2 separate regions of the Homo sapiens genome follow, and region 2 is linked to region 1. The links come from fine-mapping of genetic effects on gene expression. Tissue or cell type: lymphoblastoid cells. Region 1 holds a variant in brackets; the other region holds the start of a gene. All regions are shown on one strand. Distances are from middle to middle.

Region 1 (2,762 bases):
TTCCCCCACTTGATGGTGGAAAGAGTTCTGAATCCCCAGGGTTCCTAATGGGGGTGCATGTGGAGGGGATAGGGAAGGGCTATGGGGGTGTGTGGCTTCTCCCTCTCCCAGACAGCAAGACTGATTGGGACAGCTGTGTGGGAGCTGAGGCGCTGTCAGAAGACTGAGAGCGATTCTGTGTTCTGAGAATGAAGGCAGCAGGAAATTGCCCTCTTAGTGGCTTGCCGATAATCCTGTCCTCCCGTGGAGATGCTGTGCATTTTTTAAGCATGAGGAGGAGGAGAAGGATCAGGAACCCTTTGCCCTGTCCCTTTGGTCTACATTGAAGACATCTCTTTTACTCCCAAATGCCCCTATCAGCTCTGATGGATTATCAAGAGAACAGAGACCCTCACGTCTCTATTTTGACACTAAAATGCTCATTATCAAGTTTGTGGACTGAATCATACTAGTCTAATCTAAGAAGGCTTTGTAGAGGAGGTGAGGGGGGAATACTATTAAATATATTCCCAAGTCCTGTTAGGGAATGAGGGAAGGCGGAGGTGGTACCTTTTGGAGAAGAAGGTTTGAGGGCTGTCCTGGATTGAGGTGGGGTTTTGCCTTAGGTTGAAGCTTTCTAACGAGGAGATCCGGCAGGCCATCTTGAAGATGGATGAGCAGGAGGACCTTGCTAAGGACATGCTGGAGCAGGTGAGGACCCTCGTGGGAAGGAAGGGGAACTGAACCCAGCGGGCAGCCACGCCCCTTCCCAACAGCCCCCAGGAGGCTGCGATTCTTGGGTCAAGGAGAAATCAGGCTGGAAGAGTTAGGGAGAAGGTTTATAGAAGCCTCCCTGGGCCAGCCTTTCTTGGGGAAAGCTGGAAAAGGCTAAGTGTTCTCCAGGAGTCATTCTCCCATCTGACTCCAAGGCAAAGTCAGATGAGGAAAAGTGACATCTTCCCCAAATCTCTTCCCTCTCAGTTTTTTGGATCCTTTGGGAAACCTAGAAAACACACAAAGAAACATCATCAATTGGACTTCATTACAGTTAAGAACTTCTGTTCATCAAGGGCATGGTTACTGAGTGAAAAGAAGACAAACCTTAGAAGAAGATATTTGCTATACATACATATAACAAAGATCATATTCAGAACAAAGAACTCTACAAATCAATGAGAAAATGATGAAATCAACTTAAAAATGAGCAGAAGACTTGAAGGGGTGCTTCATGAAAGAGGATTTCCAAATAGACAATAAGAATATGAAAAGGTGTTCAATATGATTAGTTATCAGAGAAATACAGTCAACCACAATAAGGGGGCACCACACACCCACTAGAGTAGCTAAAATTAAAAAGACTGACAATGCCATGTGCTGACGAGGATGTGAAGCAATTGGAATTCTCATTTGGCACAATTATTTTGGAAAACTACTTGGAAGTACACTCTACAGCTAAACATATACCCGCCCTATTGCCTAGTAATCCCACTCTTAGGTATAACTCCAGGGAAATGAGTACAAATACTGACTAAAATAAATACACAAGAATAAAGTTGACCCTTAATAATGTGGGGGCTGGAGGCATTGACCCTCCATGCAGTCAAAAATCCACATATAACTTTTGACTTCCCAACAACTTAGCCGCTAATTGCCTACTGTTGACCAGAAGCCTTACTGATAAGATAAACAACCAATTAACACATATTTTTATGTTACATGTATTATATGCTGTATTTTTATAACACAGTAAGCTAAAGAAAAGAAAA[C/T]GTTATTAAGAAAATTATTAGAAGGAAGTCCGGGCACAGTGGCTCATGCCTGTAATCCCAGCACTTTGGGAGGCTGAGGTGGACAAATTACTTGAGGTCAGGAGTTCAAGCCCAGCCTGGCCAGTATGGTGAGACCCCATCTTTACTAAAAATACAAAAATTAGCCAGGTGTGATGGTGCATGCCTGTAGTCCCAGCTACTTGGGAGGCTGAGGCAGGAGAATCACTTGAACCCAGGAGGCGGAGGTTGCAGTGAGGTGAGATGGTGCCATTGCACTCCAGCCTGGGCAACAGAGTGAGACTCCATCAAAAAAAAAGAAAAAAAATCATTAAAAGACACTGTTCATTGAGTGGAGGTGGATCATCATAAAGGTCTTCATCCTCATTGTCTTCACGCTGAGGAGGAGGAAGAGGAATGGTTGGTCTTGCTGTCTCAGGGATGGCAGAGGCAGAAGAAAATCCACATACAAGTGGTCCTGCACAGTTCAACCCTGTGTTACTCAGGGGCCAACTCTATTTATAGCAACTTTATTTATAAATTCCCCGAACTGTGAACAACCCAACTGTCCATCAATAGGAAAGTGAATAAGTAGACTGTGGTATATTCATACAGTAGAATCCTACTCAGCAATAAATAAACTACCATGACATGGATGAACCTTAGACATTATGCTGGGGAGAAGTCAGACATAAAAGAGAGCATACAGCATGAGTTCAAGGACAGGCAAATCTGGCTAAGGTCCTAGAATTCAGTTGAGAGCCTATATTCACTTGAATGGCTTACTGAAGTGATGAAAAATAACTTTCCTGGGGGATGGAAATGTTCTCTATCTTAATCTGAATGATGATTCAATGGATGGAGATTTGACAAAAATCACTGAACTGCACATTTAAAATGGGTGCATTTTATTTTATGTAGACTATACCTCAAGTTTGTTTAAAAGAAAAGAAAAATCACTGAGCTGTACATTGAAGAATAGTGTACTTTAGGCTAGACGTGGTGGCTCCCACCTATAAT
Region 2 (2,762 bases), 45 kb after region 1:
CAGTGATCTTATGAATCCCAGGACAGGAAGCCTAGTTCTGGGAGACGGGGAAAAAAACGCCTAGATAGGTACCGAAAAGAGGTTTCACTAAATGAAAAGAGGTACTTTTCCCCCCAAATTATTCCCTAACCACCTGAGCAGAAGAACAACCAAAACCTAAAACTTTTAATGACTTGAAACACTCTGAGGGGTGCTGGCAAGGACTGAGGGATCTTACCCAAAACCCTAAAGACAGAGGAATTAATTTCTCACCTGGAAGAAGCCACGTCCTGCCCTGTTCTGCTCTAGGATAAGGCTGAACCCTCCCAAGGTTAATAAAAAAGACAAGGAGAGTCAGCAAAGGATGGGTTACAGAGCCCTGGGACTACAGTAACAACTCATCGTTGGTGACACCGAGGTGACATGTTTAGTCAGTCGCACTATGAAGCAGGTGTCACAGGGACACCTGATCTCTCAGCTCTTGGGATAGGGAGGGAAAATGTTTAAGAAAGAGGGTGGGTGCAAGGCAAGGCTGAAAGGTACTAAGACACCTCACTGGACCCAAAGTCCCAGTCCTCTGCTTACCCGAATTTCTGGCCAAGCTCAGGGCTAGAAGGGGTGGCGTGGCTGGGGGGCAGGGAGGTTCTGAAGCGGGACTCCCAGGAACCTCTCCCGCTGGGCTAGCGGGTGAGACCGGGCGGTCCATCTGGAGAACATCGCTCCACTGAGGAGTGCCAACGGGTCCCTCCCAGAAGCGGTCAAGCAGATAGGCCGGGAGCTACTGGGGGAAAAGGGCAGTGTGCCGGGGCCACTCCTGCCCCGGGAAGCTGTGGACGCAGGCGGGGTGGGCTCACCTCCGAGGCAGCTCGCGCGGACTCCCCGGGGCAGGGCTGGGTCACCGGAGCCCCTGAGCTGCAGCTCCGGGCGCTGGACCTCAGAAGCCGCCGCAGCATCCGGGACAGTGGCCGCGCCGCCATGAAGCCTGATACGAGCGGAACCGCAGCCCGCTTCGGGAGCACACTGGCCGGGCACTCGCCCCCGGGGTCATCCCAGCAAGGGCGGGGAGGGGCAGGGGGAGGGCGGGACCCGCGCAGCCAATAGGCGAGGACGCAGTCCCGCGTGGCCTTGTGGGAGCTGTAGTACGCTCCCTGTGCCCACTTTCCTGGGCCGGGGTAGCGCTCTAGGGCAGAAGGGTAAACTCAGGTAAGGAACGGGGTTCTTTTCCTTCCAGTTTTTCTGGCTGCTCTAGTCTCAGATTTAGGTCGTGGTGTGACAGTAGGCAGGACAGGACAAGGGCCAAACGAATGAGGCACTGCCTTGGATGCAAAATTTAAGAGGGTGCCAGGTAAACTGCGGTTATCAAAGTAAGTAATTTTTTAATGTAATATTTCAAAAAATCGTAATAAATTTTCAGAAGTCCGTGAAATATCAACATTCTAAATAAAAAGATTTAGCCTACACTTGCATGACTCACATCACTCAGTGCACCATAGTGCAGATTGTGGTTGTAAAACGGTCAGTTAGGTCTTTCAAGATACACTTCTCCAGTTGTGCCCCAAAAGGATATTAACAATCTTTTTTTTTTTTTTTTTTTTCGTGGAGAAGGCAAGAGTATATGAGAAGTCACAGAATGAGTGGACAACATTTTTGAAATGCTTCTTATACACCAAGCACCATGCTAAATGTTATTTAAAACAATCCTGGTATGAATAGAATGTCCTTTTTGCAACTGAGGACATTGAGGCTTAGAGAGACCAGGTAATTTTCTCGAAGTCACACAGCTGATAGTGGGTTTCAAACCCAGGGCAATCTGCTTTCTACAGTCATTCAGTCAAGATTCAGTATGTGTTAGGAATGGTGGGGTGTGCCTCTTCCTCTCTATAAAAAGCAGAGTGCTGTAGTCCTTTAAGATTTTGGATAACACACACAATAATGAGCTTATGTACTAAGAATAATTATGCTCAAACCAGCCTGTTGTATCCAAAACCCTGTCCCTGTGGAATTGCAAGAATAAAACACCGGCTGGAACATACAGCTGCCAAGTGCATGCTTAGGAAGTGGGAATATAGCTCCTGATCTTGAAGAATTGACCGAATAGTGGGAGAGGAAAAAATAACTGAATATAACTGACTTTTACAAGTGCAGTGGGACTGTCAGAAAAGCTGAGATGATTTTAGCCTTAGATTCAATGTGAATTTCTCACAATGATACTCAAAATTCAGAAAATATATTGTAGGGGATGAAAGTGTATCTGGGGTGTGTTTGAAACTGATGAGACAAGTATGCCAGAGGTCTGTTTGCAAGGGGCCTGAAGACCAACTGAGGACTGTTCAAGCTCTGTCCACTGCTAAGTTTAGATATGTCTGGATTTATCAGGAAAACTGGGTATGGGGGAGAGAAGGATAAAAACTTTTTTTTTTTTTGTATGTATGAGGCTTGAAGAGCCTTCTAGAGAGGACTCAACCTCAGGGAAGAAGCCATCTGACATATGAACTTGATCCAAGAATGTCACCAGCTCCTTGGAGCCTCTCTAGATTCCACCCTCTTCATACAAGTTGTATGTGATCATCCCTTCACTTGGGCTTTACTGTCATCTTTTATAGAACTTGGGTCTCCAAGGCAAGACCTAAGGCTTACTCAGTTCTGTTTGAAGGCTGAAATCCTCTCCATATTATCATACATCTACTTGGACTCCTGTAGTGCTGGGAAACTTTCTGGCTTCCTGATGTTGTCTGGTCCACTTAAATGTTTCCCCACCTATTAAAGTTCTTACTTGTATTCAG

The links. PIP is the estimated chance that this variant, and not a neighbour inherited with it, causes the effect.
Region 2: MOCS1 starts here. The variant in region 1 is fine-mapped to the expression of MOCS1 in lymphoblastoid cells (GTEx, PIP above 0.99).

The regions. Positions count from the first base shown.
Region 1 is chr6:39,888,074-39,890,835 of GRCh38, forward strand. It overlaps DAAM2 (dishevelled associated activator of morphogenesis 2), which reads left to right. Exons shown (of 25, transcript NM_001201427.2): 17 at 606-690. DAAM2-AS1 (DAAM2 antisense RNA 1) reads right to left here. Exons shown (of 4, transcript NR_125831.1): 4 at 717-982. Among named protein-coding and RNA genes, the nearest start is that of DAAM2-AS1, 7.9 kb to the right of the region's middle. RefSeq lists an enhancer at 1-775. The variant C/T (reference allele first, on the strand shown) is at 1,746.
Region 2 is chr6:39,933,462-39,936,223 of GRCh38, forward strand. MOCS1 (molybdenum cofactor synthesis 1) reads right to left here and starts at 1,001. Exons shown (of 11, transcript NM_001358530.2): 1 at 834-1,001. The coding sequence starts at 956. It overlaps LOC102723789 (a long non-coding RNA gene), which reads left to right and starts at 1,108. Exons shown (of 6, transcript XR_001744112.1): 1 at 1,108-1,182.